Homo sapiens: one gene and its partner. The protein of the gene in region 2 interacts with the protein of the main gene of each other region in a biochemical or structural test. Each region holds a gene or a part of one and is shown on either strand. Other genes may lie near its edges.

Region 1 (7,871 bases), on a different chromosome or scaffold from region 2:
TGCCCCTCCCTCTCAGGCTGTGCAACTGCCTGTTTCTATAGAGTGCTGCCTGGGCTGGGGCTGGGCTGGTGACCTGTGTGGGTCTGCGTCTGGCGTACACCCATCCCACATGCTCTGGCAGCCCCTGGGTGTGTGGGGGTTCACGCGTGCTCCAGACACGGCCTGGATGGGCATGGCAGGGGTGTGCTGTGCACCCACTCAGGTCTTGGGATGCAGCTGACACCTCGCACGTGGCTACACGCATGATCTTCTGGAACCTCCCATAGCCCCATCCAGCTACAGACTGATCATCTCCACCATTTGGCAGGCAAGAGAAACTGAAGTCCAAGAGGGCCACGCAGCCAAGAAGCTGCAGGACCAACCCTGCTCTTAGCACCGGGACCAGAGGCACAGGCATCAGGCCTCTCATCTCCACGCTCCTGCCAGGACCCCTGGGGCATCTCCTTGTTCACTGTGGCCTGGCCATCCTGCAGAGCTGAGCTCAGCTGCACCTCCTCCTCTGGGAAGCCGCCTTGGATTTCCTCAACCCCACAGAGCTAGCTGGTCTCAACATCAGGCATTTGACCACCGGCAAACACCCCTCTGGCAGGGCCAGGCTCATCAGGCCTCTGCTGGCATGGTCTGAGAGTCAATCAACCAACAAGCATTCACAGAAAGCGGTGCCAGGACTCTCTTGGCTCTCCTCGGAGGGCTGGGATGGCCTGTCCCTCTCCTCTCCTCACCCCTGCTCCCAGCAAGGCCGTCCGTTGTGCCCAAGACCATCTAGGACATTCTCATCCCCCTGAGACCTCAAGGGCCTTCCTGCCTCCTCCCTCAGACGTGAGGGTGAGATCCTGCCTCTACCATTGGAGCGCCACAGCCCACCTGCCTCCTCTGTCAAAAAAACCTCCTTGTACCATCTCTCACTTGAGACCTCTGCTAGGCCTGCCTCCTCCATCTGACCTCCACATCCCATCAGCAGCCACCCTGGGCCCTGCATGCACTGGCCTCCTCCCTCAGACGCTCCTTGCACCATATCACTTGCATTAGACGCTCTCCTAGGCCTGCCTCCCCCCTCAGACCACCACATCACATCTACACATGCTGGCTTCTTCCCTCAGACCCTCCTTGCCCCGTGTCACCCGGCGTCAGACGCTCTCCCAGGCCCGCCTCCCCGCTTGGACCACCACATCACATCTACACGCACCAGCCTCCTCCCTCAGACCCTCCTTGCACCATGTCACCCCCATCAGATGCTCTCCCAGGCCTGCTGCCCTGCCTGGACCACCACATCACATCTATATGCACTGGCCTCCTCTCTCAGACTCTCCTTGTGCCATATCACCTACTTTACATATTCTCCTAGACTCGCCTCCCCTCTCAGACCACCACATCACATCTATACCCACCAGCCTCCTCCCTCAGATGCTCCGTGCCCCGTGTCGCCCCCATTGGGCACTCTCCAAGGCCCACTTCCCCTCTCAGACCACCACATCATACCCACACGCACTGGCCTCCTCCCTCAGGCCCTCCTGGCCCCGTGTCACCACCATCAGACACCCTCCCCGCTGGCCGCTCCGCTCAGGCCACCACACCTCACCTCGCTCACGCACGAAGTAGGCCAGGTAGAGGTCCAGCTCCTTGACGGCCACGCCAATGTGGTGCGGCTGCACGCACAGGACCGGGTGACCGCACTGCGCAGCCTTGACCAGGCGCTCGCCGTCGGTGCTCTCCAGCGGGATGCCCTTGAACAGGATGACCATGACCAGGTCCAGCCGCCACACCTTGTCCGCCTGCCGGAGACAGTCGATGCGCCGCATCTTGCCCTTCTGGTCGGGGTTGGAGAGCACGCAGCCCGGCGCCTTCTTGCCGGTGATGCTCAGCACGAAGTCCTCGCGGCACTCGGGCCGGATGTCCTTGCGCAGCTTGGCCAGCAGCCGCGACGCCCACTTCTGCTTGACCTCGGGCTTCTCGCCCAGCAGCTCGTCCTTGACCGCACGCTCCTCGTCCTTCGACATCCGCTTCTCGTGCTTCTTGAAGTACTTGCGCTTCCGCGCCTGCAGGTTGAACCAGGTGTAGGCGAAGGCGCGGACGTGAGGCAGCAGGGCCTCGATGAACGGGTGGAACTCATCCTGCAGGCCGGAGAGGCGAGAGGTCAGGAGCGCCAGGGACGCAGAGGGCGGACCCACTGCCCGGCCCCGAAGGCTGAGGTCGGAGGGGCCCTGAACAGACCCGCAGAGTGGGAGGGGCTGGGCAGAGGTGGGCAGGGGGTCGCTGCGGACCCGTGCACGCCGCCGGAGGCACGCAAAAGGCCCGGGGGACCCAGGAGAAGTTTATCAGGGACCTGCAAGAACCCATCGCCCAGATGAGCAAACAGACTTGGACTATGTGAGAGGCACAAATCAAGGCGGAAGTTTGTGGAGGATCATTTTTTTTTTTTTTTTTTTTGAGACGGAGTCTTGCTCTTAACGCTAAGGCTGGAGTGCAGTGGCGCAATCTCGGCCCACTGCAACCTCCACCTCCCGGGTTCAAGCGATTCTCCTGCCTCAGCCTCCCGAGTAGCTAGGATTACAGATGCCCACCACCACGCCCAGCTAATTTTTGTATTTTTAGGAAAGATGGGGTTTCACCATGTTGGCCAGGATGGTCTCGATCTCCTGACCTCTGATCCGCCCGCCTCGGCTCTCGGCCTCCCCAAGTGCTGGGATGACAGGTGTGAGCCACCATGCCCAGCCGTGGAGGACCTATGTTGAACCCCAGCATGCAGATGGAGCAAGCTAAGGGGGCCAGGTGGAGGCTCATGGACAACCCATTGTACAGACGGGTAAAACTGAGGTTGGGAGAACAAAGATGTCAGGGACCTATTCTCTGCCTATTGCAGCTAGGGTTGGGCTGGGTGTAATGGCTCACACTTGTAATCCCAGCGCTTCGGGAGGCCGAGGAGGGAGGACTGCTTGAGCCCAGAAGTTTGAGACCAGTCTGAGCCATATGGTAAAACCCCATCGCTACAAAACAAATGAACAAACAAAATCAAAAAAACAAAAATTAGCCAGGTATGGTGGTTTGCAACTGTAGTCCCAGCTAGTTGGGAGGCTGGGGTGGGAGGATCATTTGAGCCCAGGAGTTTAATGCTGCAGTGAGCTGTGATGGTGCCACTGCACTCCAGCCTGGGCGACAGAGCAAGACTGTCACAAAAAAAAAAAAAAAAAAAAAAAGCCTGGGCGCAGTGGCTCACACCTGTAATCCCAGCACTTTGGGAGACCGAAGCAGGTGGATCACCTGAGGTTAGGAGCTTGAGACCAGCCCGGCCAACATGGCAAAACCCCGTCCCTACTAAAAATACAAAAAAATGTAGCCAGGCATATTGGAGCACACCTGTAATCCCAGCTACTCAGGAGGCTGAGACAGGAGAATCGCTTGAACCTGGGAGGCAGAGGTTGCAGTGAGCTCAGATTGTGCCACTGCACTCCAGCCTGGGAGCCTGGGTGCCAAGAGTGAAACACTGTCTCAAAAAAAAAAAAAAAAAAAAAAAAAGAACAAGGCTGGGCACGGTGGCTCACGCTTGTAATCCCAGCACTTTGGGAGGCCAAGGCGGGCAGATCACGAGGTCAGGAGATTGAGACCATCCTGGCTAACACAGTGAAACCCCGTCTCTACTGAAAAAAAAACAAAAAAATTAGCCGGGCGTGGTGTCGGGCGCCTGTAGTCCCAGCTACTCAGGAGGCTGAGGCAGGAGATTGGCATGAACCCGGGAGGCGGAGCTTGCAGTGAGCCGAGATTGCGCCACTGCACTCCAGCCTGGGCGACAGAGCAAGACTCCATCTCAAAAAACAAAACAAAACAAAAAAAAACTAGGGTCGGCGGCCAAGCATGGTGGCTCACACCTGTAATCCCAGCACTTTGGGAGGCCACAGTGGGTGGACTGCTTGAGCCCAGGAGTTCAAGACCAGCCTGGATGACATAGCGAGGCCCCGTTTCTACAAAATCAAAACTTAGCTAGGTGATGCATACCTGCAGTCCCAACTACTTGGGAGGCTGAGGTGGGAAGATCAATTGAGCCCAGGAGGTCAAGGCTGCAGTGAGCCAAGGTTGCGCCATTGATCTCCAGCCCGGGTGACAACGTAGTGAGACCCCTGACTCCTGACTCAAAAAAAAAAAAAAAAAAAAAAAGAAAGAAATAAAAAAAAATGAAAAATGAGGCTGGGCGCAGTGGCTCACGCCTGTAATCCCAGCACTTTGGGAGGCTGAGGCAGGTGGATCGCTTGAGGTCAAGAGCTTGACACCAGCCTGGCCAACATAGTGAAACCCCATCTTTACTAAAAATACAAAAATTAGCTGGGCATGGTGGCACACGCCTGTAGTCCCGGCTACTCAGGAGGCTGAGGCAGGAGAACCCAGGAGGCAGAGGTTGCAGTGAGCCGAGAGCTCGCCACTACATTCCAGCCTGGGCGACAGAGTGAGACTCCGTCTCAAAAAAAAAAAACCCGGCTGGGCGCGGTGGTTCATGCCTGTAATCCTAGCACTTTGGGAGACCGAGGCGGGCAGATCAAGAAGTCAGGAGTTCAAGACCAGCCTGGCTAACATGGTGAAACTCTGTCTCTACTAAAAATACAAAAATTAGCCAGGCGTGGTGGCGCATGACTGTAATCCCAGCTACTTGGGAGGCTGAGGCAGGAGAATTGCTTGAACCTGGGAGGTGGAGGTTGCAGTGAGCCAAGGTCACTCCACTGTACTCCAGCCTGGGTGACAGGGCGAGACTCCATCTTGGGAAAACAAAAAACAAAAAAACAAAAAATGACTACGAAAGCTTGTTCCTACAGAGCATATGTACAGACAGGCCTGGCTGAGATCCACAGGCAGACACTAGGCCCGCCTGGAGGTTGAGGGCTGCTGGAAGGGTGGGGGGATTTCTGCATCAAAAGATAAGAGATTCAAGTGCACCAGGATTAATCAGAGGGAGGAGAAATCCCGGGTGGAGTCCTCTCCCTCCTTTCCCCTTTCCATGAACCCACTGTGCTGATACAGAAACAGACCAGAGAAGCAGACGCTCAGCCACAAAGGTTCAGAACTGGGGAGAGGGGCCACCCCGTTCCCTGCAGACCCACCCTGGAGATGGAAAATCCGAGGGCTGGGAAGGCGCTGAGACTGGGCCAGAGCTGGGACTTCAACCTACTCCCAAATCATGACAAATTGGTGTCTGAGGGCAGTCACAACACCCATGCTACAGATGAGGAAACTGAGGCCTTGAGGGGGAACCCGGCCATGGGGGACAGAGGTGGACTGGAACCTGCACTCATCTGACTTCCCCACGAAAATAACAGCAGCCCCTTGAAGAGAAATGTGGGGCAGTGGGAGGCCCCCAGCTCCCTGTCTGGGTGTGGGGAGGCCCCTCCCATTCTTCCCATTTTCCAGCAAGGGAAACTGAGTCTGCATAGCATTTGGGATCTCAGCTGGGGACTATGGCTAACGCCTGTAATCCCAGAACTTTGGGAGGCTGAGGTGGGTGGATCACTTGAGCCCAGTTCAATCCCAGCCTGGGCAACATGGCGAAACCCCATCTCCTTTTTTTTTTTTTTTTTTTTGAGACAGAGTTTCACTCTTGTCACCCAGGCTGGAGTGCAGTGGCACAATCTCGGCTCACTGCAACCTCCGCCTCCCAGGTTCAAGAGATTCTCCTGCCTCAGCCTCCCGAGTAGCTGGGATTACAGGCACACACTATTACAGCCACACACTATCATGCCCAGCTAATTTTTGTATTTTTAGTAGAGATGGGGTTTCACCATGTTGGCCAGGCTGGTCTTGAACTCCTGACCTCAGGTGGTCCACCTGCCTCTGCCTCCCAAAGTGCTGGGATTACAGGTGTGAGCCACTGTGGCCGGCAGGCAAAACCCTATCTTTACGAAAATTACAAAAATTAGCTGGGCATAATTTTTGTGGTGCGCGTCTGTAGTCCCAGCTACTTGGGAGGCCGAGGTGGAGAGATCACTTGAGCCCAAGTGTTTGAGAGCAGCCTGACCAACATGTCGAAACCCCGTCTCTACTAAAAATTACAAAAATAATTAGTTGGGCATAGTTGCTGTGGCGCACACCTGTAGTCCTAGCTACTTAGGAGGCTGAGGTGGGAGGATCACTTGAGCCTCAGAGGTCGAGGCTGCAGTGAGCTGTGATTGTGCCACTGCACTCCAGCCTGGGGGATAGAGTAAGACCCTGTCTCTAAAAAAATAAAAAATAAAATAAAACAAATTAAAAACATCTGGGACCTAGTTTCTCAGCCTCAAGGTGGAATAAATACAAGGAACAAGAAGAGAAAGAGAAGCAAAACTGCCTTTCCATCTCCCTGCCTTGACCAGGCTGGGCTGGGCATTTCGGACAGGGGTGATCCCTTCCTAGCACAGAAAGCTGTTTTCCTCCCCCCAGCTCTCAAAGGACTACATTGTTATTAATGATGCGATGATTGTTATCATTACAACTTATATTGCTATTGGATTTTTTTTTTTTTTTTTTTTTTTTGAGACAGAGTCTCGCTCTGTCACCCAGGCTAGAGTGCAGTGATGCGATCTCAGCTCACTGCAAACTCTACCTCCCGGGTTCACGCCATTCTCCTGCCTCAGCCTCCTGAATAGCTGGGACTACAGGCACCCGCCACCATGCCCAACTAATTTTTTGTATTTTTTTTTTTAGTAGAGACGGGGGTTCACTGTGTTAGCCAGGATGGTCTCAATGTCCTGACCTCGTGATCCGCCTGCCTCGGCCTCCCAAAGTGCTGGGGCTACTGTGATTTTTATTACTTTTTTTTTTAAGAGATGGGGGTCTCAGCCTGGTGTGGTGGCTCACGCCTGTAATCCCAGCACTTTGGGAGGCCGAGGTGGGTGGATCATCTGAGGTCAGGAGTTTGAGATCAGCCTGGCCAACATGGCGAAACCCCATCTCTACTAAAAACACAAAAAATTAGCCAGGTATGGTGACAGGCGCCTGTAATCCCAGCTACTCGGGAGGCTAAGGCAGGAGAATCACTTGAACCCGGGAGGCAGAGGTTGCAGTGAGCCAAGGTCGCGCCATTGCACTCCAGCCTGGGCAACAAGAGCGAGACTCCGTCTCAAAATAAATAAATAAATAAATAAAAAAGACAGGCGTCTCACTGGAGTGCAGTGGCACGATCTTAGGTCACTTGGGCCCTGAACTCCCAGACTCAAGCGATTCTCCCACGTCAGCTTCCTGAGTAGCTGGGACTACAGGTGCAAACCACCATGTCTGGCTAATTTTTATTTTTGCAGAGATGGAGTCTCACTCACTGTGTTGCCTTGGCCGGTCTCAAACTCCTGGGCTCAAGTGATCCTCCCACCTCGGCCTCCTAAGGCACTGGGATATTTTCTATTTTCTTTCCTTTTTTTTTTTTTTTTTTTTTTTTTTTTTTTGAGACAGTGTCTCACACTGTTGCCCAGGCTGGAGGGCGGTGGCATGATCTCAGCTCACTGCAACCTCCGCCTCCTGGGTTCAGGCGATTCTCATGTCTCAGCCTCCCGAGTAGCTGGGATTCCAGGTGCGCCACCATGCCCAGCTAATTTTTGTACTTTTAGTAGAGATGGGGGTCTTGCTATGTTGCCCAGGCTGGTCTCGAATTCCTGGGCTCAAGCGATCCTCCCGCCTCGGCCCCTCTAAGATGCTGGGGTATTTTCATTACTATGGACGCGATTGCTGCGATGATCATTTTGATTGCAGACAATCTTCCAGGAAGCAGGGAACAGCCTGAGGCCCCGCTCCGTGTTCTGTGGCATGGAAACTAAGGCTCAGAGAGGGGCGGAGACCTGGCTGAGGTCCCACAGGGTCTCAGGGCCGGTGTGAGGATAAGAATCAGGGCCCTGACCCCCTGGAAGGCCACGGGTCCCTTTCTC
Region 2 (8,753 bases):
AATTCAGATACCCTTTCAAAATCTGACATGTGTGTGGCTAAAGTTGTACAAAACAGTGGGTAATGAGTGTTGTCAGAAGTGGCCTGTCCTATGCCCTATTTAACTTTGATCACTTCCATGATAACAAAATGCACACCTTGCCCTAACCATCTGGCACAATCCAGCCCTGCTTACCAGGGAAACTTGGCAAGCCAGAGTTTTCAGGGTGGAAAGGAAACCTATTATCTCTACTAGAAAAAAAAAATCTCAAAGCGCTTGACCTACTGATGTCAGCATCACCTTTACATGCCAGGAACAAATTATTACAGAAGACCATACCTAGAACACCCAGCTGGAAGTTAATGAATCAGGGAGGAAGACTAATGACACGGCACGGTACATTCCTCCGAGGCAGGGACCGCGTCTATTCTCCTTCGGGTGGGAGTGGAAGTGCTCTGCGCACAGTGGGCACGCTGCTGATAAGGCTGTCTGGTCAGGTGAGGACACAGGTCTCCAAGGAAAGCCCTGCCTTCTCCTAGGGTGTGGATGGGGAAAGTGGGAGTAGGAGTTCACCTGCAGCACCGAGTGCATAGAAGCTCTGCCGCTATTGAAATCCCTTTTAAGGCTGAGGGGCAGATCTGAAAGGGGTGAGCAAGACAGTACTGTGTATGTGACGAGTCCTGGGTGAGGAACGGGACCCTCTCCCTCATTCCCAACGCCACCTCTCCCTGGAGTATGAGGTTCCACAGCCCAGGCAATAAAGGGAAGTAGCCCACACACCTCAACCCGGGGCCACAGTTGGAGGTGGGGAGATCTAAGAAACACTCCACGGATGAGTTTCTGAAGAGGGAAGTGGACCGGGAACAGCGCATTTCCTGCTTCGCCTGTGCAAATCCCAGGCGGGGCCAAGCGGGAACGGGGACACGGTCTAAGAGTCGCCCGCTGCCAGGGAGGGGTTGGGGGGCAGCCTCGAGGGGACACCGCGGAACCAGGGAGGGATGCGCATGGAGGGAGTGGGAGAAGGCGTCCAAGTAAAATGCATGCTCCGGTCATCGGGGGTAACGCGCGTCCCCAAATCCCCTCTCGCTGTCGCCCTTTTTTTCAGTCCTCACGGGGAGAGGCCGGCGCAGCAGTGGAGCACCGCAGGGGCTGGATCGGACCCGCACTGCAGCATCTGCAGGGCTCCGACCTGGTGCGGGCCTCCAAGGCAGGGGGCGCGCGGCGGCACAGCCGGTGGCCGCGATTTTCCGGGCCACTCCTTCCCCCCTTACACTCCCCTCCCGCCCGCGACCTTCGACCTCCATCCTGGACCCACGGGGTACTGGCCCGGGGACAAGGAGGAGACGTTAAAGGTATCAAGGGGCGCGGCACCGCCGCCTAGACGGCGCCGGGACGCGAGGTGCGAATCGGCGGCGTCCGGCTGCGCTGCCCTACCTGGGAGGTGCGGGACCCTCGGCCGCGCTCCACCGCCGCGCGCCACCTCGTGCTGGCCTCCGGGAGGCAGCCGCCCGCGCACGATTTATAAATGCAAAGGCCTTATTGTTGTTCTTTGTTCAGGGATACCATTGTCTAGTCATCCACGGGCAGCCTGGAGTTTTCCCAGGGTTTGCGGCGCGCACTCCCCTCCCCCGCCCCCACAGACTTGCTCTCCAGCGCCAACCCGGATCTGCCTAGGTGCCCACGGGTCCTTCCCGATCGACTTGAGTGTCCTTCCTCCAGCCCCTGCTTTCCCAGCATCGAAAACACAAAAGCCTGCCGGAAATCACCCAGCCTTTGCCTGGTCACTCAGGGGCCCACGGATAAGCGTGGCTCTGATTCCTCCAGGTCAGCCCCACGGTTCGCCACCTACCCGAGTTAATTTCTGCGCCCGCTGACCAAAGGCCCCAACTGGCAACGGGCACAGCTTCTTGGTGCGCTAGTCGCTTCCTTGCCCAGCCTTTAGAGCCTCGGGTCCGGCCCAAGGACCCGGGGACGTGAGCGCAATTAGTAGCCAGGAGCCCTGCGACCCTGGACCGTGCAGTGCTAACGCACCCGAACGGCTATGCGAGCGGTGTACTCGGCTCTTACTTGTGAAAGTTGTTTCCCCCAACCCCCTGCGTAAATCTCTTGTGTTGAGAAAAGCAAGGCTTGCAGGAAGCCACTCCGGATGTTTGCTGCTTTACATGTGGCATCTGTGGCTGGCTCTGATAACGTCCCGGGGCACCACGTATTAAAGTGAAGAGACTGAAATAGAAGGCTCCACACACCGCGCGCGGGTCAGCGACGTCGCCGCCCTCCACACTGCCCCCCGAAATATAAGACAAGCGAATGATCAGAAGAAATGAGATCTAACTAGGTCACAGTATGTAAAAGGGACTAGTCTTGGAAAGCCACCACAATTCCTCCCCTGTAAATTTGTAAACTGTGAATTTATGATCTCAGGGAGGGTGTTATAAGAAGTAGGGGGAGGGGCGTCAAAATCTGAAGCTCCTACTCCAACCTATGATTGTGTACTTTCACCTGATTTCTCTTACCAGACCAAGATCAGTCCCCAAGAACAAGGGCAAATAAAAATAGGGAAACCCGGCCGGGCGCGGTGGCTCACGACGGTAATCCCAGCACTTTGGGAGACCAAGGCGGGCGGATCACCTGAGGTCAGGAGTTTGAGACCAGCCTGACCAATATGATGAAACCCCGTCTCTACTAAAAATACAAAAATTAGCTAGGCGTGGTGGCATGCGTCTGTAATCCCAGCTACTCGGGAGGCTGAGACAGGAGAATCGCTTGAATCGGGGAGGCGGAGGTTGCAGCGAGCCGAGATCGCGCCATTGCACTCCAGCCTGGGCAACAAGAGGGAAACTCTGTCTCAATAAATGAATAAGTAAATAAATCAATAAAATATGGAAACCCCACGTTTTCTTCCCCATCATTTTCTCCACCTTCTTGGCTCCCAAGCGCACCTCTCCCAATAATGAGCTGGGTGAGGAAGAGCATGAGGATGAAGAAAGTGTACAGGGCTAAATCTGTATATGTACATTTTTTGGACTCACACCTGGATTGTATTTCCTGTAGTGTTTTTTAAGGAATTAGTCAAACAGACTAGACAGATAAAAATGAATTCTGGACCAGATATTGTTTTTTAATTTTCAATGTTTATTCTAGGAAAACTCCTTAGCTCATAAAAGATTTAGTGTTAAGAGAAAATTCTGCTTTGAGAGCTTTGAAAAATATTTATTATTATCCAGAAAAGTTAGAAAAGATCTCAAAAAAAAAAAAAAAAAAAACAGCAAAAAACAAGGTACTACGGGGTTAATTTGTAGATTGCTCTCTCTCCTCCTATAGTTTTGTTGCTTATTTAATCATTTGCAATGTGCTTTTGCTTTATACTGAAGCCCATTTTTTTTTCAGAAAAAATAAAGCTTTAAAAGTACATCATCATTTAAATTTGTCTAAAATCAACCGCTTTCAAAACTACCAACTAGAAGTAACACCTCTCTATGATTTCTTTATGCAGATTTAATTTTTTTTCTTGTTTGAATCTTAGAGACCCAGGAACTAGAAACACTTTCTTAACTTGTCCCCTAGCCAAGGCTTCACAGATACTTGCAGAATTAAAGATAAGTTGGCTTAAAACAATTGTGTAAGAGTTCTTTTGAGAAAAAGCAATGCCAGAGAAACTGAAGGCCAGGAGTTTGCAAAAGTTTTGTATTTTTATGGATGCCACTAATAAGCAAGACTGGACAGACGGTCTTGTTGTTGTAGTATCACACTCAAAGCAGCAGCATTTTACTTCTCAGATTCCAGGTGTAAGCTCTACTTTTTTATCACGCCTTCATAATAAAGAAAATCTGTTCTGGAGATTCGTATATTGATTTCTTTGCAAAGTTATCTCTAATTATGCAGGAATGGCTGTTAGTTGCCCTCAAAAACCAACACAAATACACAAACACAACAGCCTGGCTTAGTGATTATTAAGAGCTGCAAGTCTGAAGGCGGACTGCTGGGTGTGAATTCCACCTTCTCAACGCTGTAGTCTCCAGCAAGTTCCTTAACTTCTCTGCCTCCGTTTCCTTTCCTGTAAGATAGAGTCTACCTCAGGGTTAATATGAGGATATGCTTCTTTGCTAATGCTGGAGGGCGCTAGGAATAGCAGTGGCAGGCTGTGTCATTTCTCAGTGTTGTATAACGGCTTGTTTTAAAAGTCCCACTGAAAACTTTTTTTTTTTCCAGATCGAAACACAAGTTTAATAGTCATTCAGATTTCATTCCAGTCTAAAGAAACTTATAGAAATCTAATTATCTGCCAGAATAACCGCTTTAAACTGACTGTAAGAACCACAGTTACTTTGCAGCTAAAACAGATTGTTCTCTTCCCCCAAACAAACTCGGACATTTAGACAAATATTGCTGCTGTCTTTACATTTTAGAAATCAGTATTAAGGCTCACCTGTTACTGAACACATACGAGAAACAGTTTTGTTATGCGTATCTTATATACATCATGTATACATTTTCGTACTTTCACATGATGTGTATAATAAGATACACATAAAAACTGGTTGGCTTGTCATGAGTAAATGCTTTATTCTTTAGAGTGAAGGAATATTGGATACAGAACGTCGTTCCATATTTAATCTTGCTTTAGAAAATTAGGATTTATCTTGGACACAGCATTTTGAATATAACACAGGCAAGTTGAGTCCTGGGGGAAAAATTGTATTTTTAAATTTATTATCAACGGTGTCTTTCGCATTTGAGAAAACACATTTGAAGATGCCCATGCAGTTCCTTGGAAGTAAACTAGGTCACCCACCACTGAAACACCCTCGGCTTCTGCAAAAAGATGTGCTTTAAAGAGAATAGAATGGACGCTCGGTATGTTCATCTAAACGACCTTGGGCAAGTACGTCGATTCCAAGGTACAATCAGCCCTCCCAGACGGCTTTTCGAGTCTCCCTAACCCCGGTGGGAGAGGACGCGGCGCCAGAGCCCAGCTCCGGCTAGTTTTCCCGGGGGCAGGTGTAGCCTTGGGCGCGGGGCCGGGGGAGGGGCAAGGGGCGGGCGTGGGGTTGGACTGGGACGTGGGACTCGGACCACGGCCTGGGCGTGGGCCTAACGACGCGGGACCGGCCCGCCCTCGCCGCTCCATTGGCCACATCTGTGCAGAAAAGGCCCCGCGGCCCAGGGGCGCCCGCAGTGTCACTAGGCCGGCTGGGGGCCCTGGGTACGCTGTAGACCAGACCGCGACAGGCCAGAACACGGGCGGCGGCTTCGGGCCGGGAGACCCGCGCAGCCCTCGGGGCATCTCAGTGCCTCACTCCCCACCCCCTCCCCCGGGTCGGGGGAGGCGGCGCGTCCGGCGGAGGGTTGAGGGGAGCGGGGCAGGCCTGGAGCGCCATGAGCAGCCCGGATGCGGGATACGCCAGTGACGACCAGAGCCAGACCCAGAGCGCGCTGCCCGCGGTGATGGCCGGGCTGGGCCCCTGCCCCTGGGCCGAGTCGCTGAGCCCCATCGGGGACATGAAGGTGAAGGGCGAGGCGCCGGCGAACAGCGGAGCACCGGCCGGGGCCGCGGGCCGAGCCAAGGGCGAGTCCCGTATCCGGCGGCCGATGAACGCTTTCATGGTGTGGGCTAAGGACGAGCGCAAGCGGCTGGCGCAGCAGAATCCAGACCTGCACAACGCCGAGTTGAGCAAGATGCTGGGTGAGTCCGAGTCGCAGACCCAGGCGGCCGGGCGCGCTGGCGCGAATCGCTAGGCCGATTTCTTAAACCCCAAACTGTTCTTTGCGAGCCTGACGCCCAAAACCAGGGGTGTGTAGCGGCCACGTCCTTTCTTAAGGCTCTGGGTTCCCTTCCCGCTTCCCGCCCTCCGACCCTCCAAAGCAGCTTTCCGCCTTGCTCTCCGGCTCCCGGATTCCCCAGGTGGCCGGGGGCGCGGGTCCAACGGCTCTGGGAAGGCGACTTCCCGGCACCTCCGGGCGGCGCGAGAGCACCCTTGGCCCTGAACTGGGCCGGTTGTGTCCATCCCTCGACCCCTTCCCTAGTTAGGTGTCCTTTTCTGTTTTTCGAACGACCGGGTGATGGGTGAGCGGAAAGCCGCTTCCAGGAGACCAAAAGAAAGGGGTGCCTTTAGAGGACGGGTGTTCCCCAAGGGCTCGGACTCAGGAGTCCCAGATCTCCCTCTTTAACTTCACCCCGGTTGCGCAATTCAAAGTCTGAGGGGGGAGGTGCGTCCAGGTGGGGCCAGGTGGGGCCTGGAGCGGGAGCGCAGCCGATAAGCCCTGCGCCCCTCTCCCCCTTCCTTCCACTGTGCAGGCAAGTCGTGGAAGGCGCTGACGCTGGCGGAGAAGCGGCCCTTCGTGGAGGAGGCAGAGCGGCTGCGCGTGCAGCACATGCAGGACCACCCCAACTACAAGTACCGGCCGCGGCGGCGCAAGCAGGTGAAGCGGCTGAAGCGGGTGGAGGGCGGCTTCCTGCACGGCCTGGCTGAGCCGCAGGCGGCCGCGCTGGGCCCCGAGGGCGGCCGCGTGGCCATGGACGGCCTGGGCCTCCAGTTCCCCGAGCAGGGCTTCCCCGCCGGCCCGCCGCTGCTGCCTCCGCACATGGGCGGCCACTACCGCGACTGCCAGAGTCTGGGCGCGCCTCCGCTCGACGGCTACCCGTTGCCCACGCCCGACACGTCCCCGCTGGACGGCGTGGACCCCGACCCGGCTTTCTTCGCCGCCCCGATGCCCGGGGACTGCCCGGCGGCCGGCACCTACAGCTACGCGCAGGTCTCGGACTACGCTGGCCCCCCGGAGCCTCCCGCCGGTCCCATGCACCCCCGACTCGGCCCAGAGCCCGCGGGTCCCTCGATTCCGGGCCTCCTGGCGCCACCCAGCGCCCTTCACGTGTACTACGGCGCGATGGGCTCGCCCGGGGCGGGCGGCGGGCGCGGCTTCCAGATGCAGCCGCAACACCAGCACCAGCACCAGCACCAGCACCACCCCCCGGGCCCCGGACAGCCGTCGCCCCCTCCGGAGGCACTGCCCTGCCGGGACGGCACGGACCCCAGTCAGCCCGCCGAGCTCCTCGGGGAGGTGGACCGCACGGAATTTGAACAGTATCTGCACTTCGTGTGCAAGCCTGAGATGGGCCTCCCCTACCAGGGGCATGACTCCGGTGTGAATCTCCCCGACAGCCACGGGGCCATTTCCTCGGTGGTGTCCGACGCCAGCTCCGCGGTATATTACTGCAACTATCCTGACGTGTGACAGGTCCCTGATCCGCCCCAGCCTGCAGGCCAGAAGCAGTGTTACACACTTCCTGGAGGAGCTAAGGAAATCCTCAGACTCCTGGGTTTTTGTTGTTGCTGTTGTTGTTTTTTAAAAGGTGTGTTGGCATATAATTTATGGTAATTTATTTTGTCTGCCACTTGAACAGTTTGGGGGGGTGAGGTTTCATTTAAAATTTGTTCAGAGATTTGTTTCCCATAGTTGGATTGTCAAAACCCTATTTCCAAGTTCAAGTTAACTAGCTTTGAATGTGTCCCAAAACAGCTTCCTCCATTTCCTGAAAGTTTATTGATCAAAGAAATGTTGTCCTGGGTGTGTTTTTTCAATCTTCTAAAAAATAAAATCTGGAATCCTGCTTTTTTGCTCTACTAGTACCTCTGTCACACTAGTCTTATCAAAAACCAGTTCTTAAGATCAATGTTAAGTTTATTAGTTAATGTAAATTTCTCATCCTCGAAAAGGGTGAACATAAATGCCTTTAAGGAGTATATCTAAAAATAAACATTAGGATATCTAAGTTTGATGTAATTGTTTCAGGAAGGAAAAAAGAAAAGCATTCTGGAATGAGCCTACTTCAAGTAATCTTAGTTTCTAAAACTAACAGTTAATATTTTCAATTCCAGTATATCACTTTAAGTAGAAGGGGATGTCCAAGTAATTTTGGTTTTCTAACTGTTGAATCATAAGCTTGACCTGCCCCCAGAGGCTTTTTGGATGTTTTTATCTGTGTTTTGCCATCTCTTTACACTCCTCGACATTCAGTTTACCTTAATCTTCACATTTTTACACCTTGGGAAGTGGCAAGCATCGCTGGGTTTAAGATAAAGGAGTCACAAAAACTAATCAAAATAAAATTTGCATTATGACAACTTTTAATACACTTTAGCATTTTATTTGATTGGTTTTTTTTTTTTTTGCTTTTAGATTTAATACATATACGGACGATTGCACAGACTTAGGGGAGAATCCATGAATGGTTTGTGTGTAGTGTCCCTATCTATCACCATTACTTTATCAAGAAGAAACAGTTACAGGGTTGTGAGTAAAAGATGGGGATCAGCCCCTGTAATCTGCCATACTAATCGCTGTGGCACGTCTCACCACATTTGAGATTGAGACATAAATGGAAACAGGTGACTTATAATGGGCATTTCCTGTGCCAGATGTTTGTTCAATGCCATTCTAAACAGTGTGAGCCTCAACAAACCTGCAGGTTTAGGTGCTATTTTTCCTATTTTGTAAGAAAAGGAGGCACCAGGCCTTCCCCTGCCATGTATATGAAGGCTTGTATTACAAGTTCTTTTGACATATTTCTCACCTGTTTTCCTCTGGGCCAGTATGTATTCATGGGCACTGGGAGAATTTACATTCTGTTGATGAGAAACCATATAATTATCCTTAGCAGCAAGTGCTATAGAAAAAGGAAAGGCTTGGAGGATAGCTTCCAGCATTTACATGGGAGAGATGTCTGAGCTGAAATGATTGGCTGGATTCTCTTGAAAAAGGGCATGGAATATGTT

Evidence for each region. Proteins that work in one complex are often made in the same cells at the same time.
Region 1: the proteins of SOX17 (region 2) and NFIC form a complex in vitro, tested with the Homo sapiens proteins (one study listed by BioGRID).

Annotation. Positions count from the first base shown.
Region 1 is NC_000019.10:3,375,952-3,383,822, reverse strand, and holds part of NFIC (nuclear factor 1 C-type), read right to left. Parts: intron 2,112-7,871; coding exon 1,580-2,111; intron 1-1,579.
Region 2 is NC_000008.11:54,452,784-54,461,536, forward strand, and holds SOX17 (transcription factor SOX-17), read left to right. Parts: upstream 1-5,151; 5' UTR 5,152-5,355; coding exon 5,356-5,662; intron 5,663-6,274; coding exon 6,275-7,212; 3' UTR 7,213-8,109; downstream 8,110-8,753. UniProt on the Homo sapiens protein: Acts as a transcription regulator that binds target promoter DNA and bends the DNA. Binds to the sequences 5'-AACAAT-'3 or 5'-AACAAAG-3'. Modulates transcriptional regulation via WNT3A. Inhibits Wnt signaling. Promotes degradation of activated CTNNB1.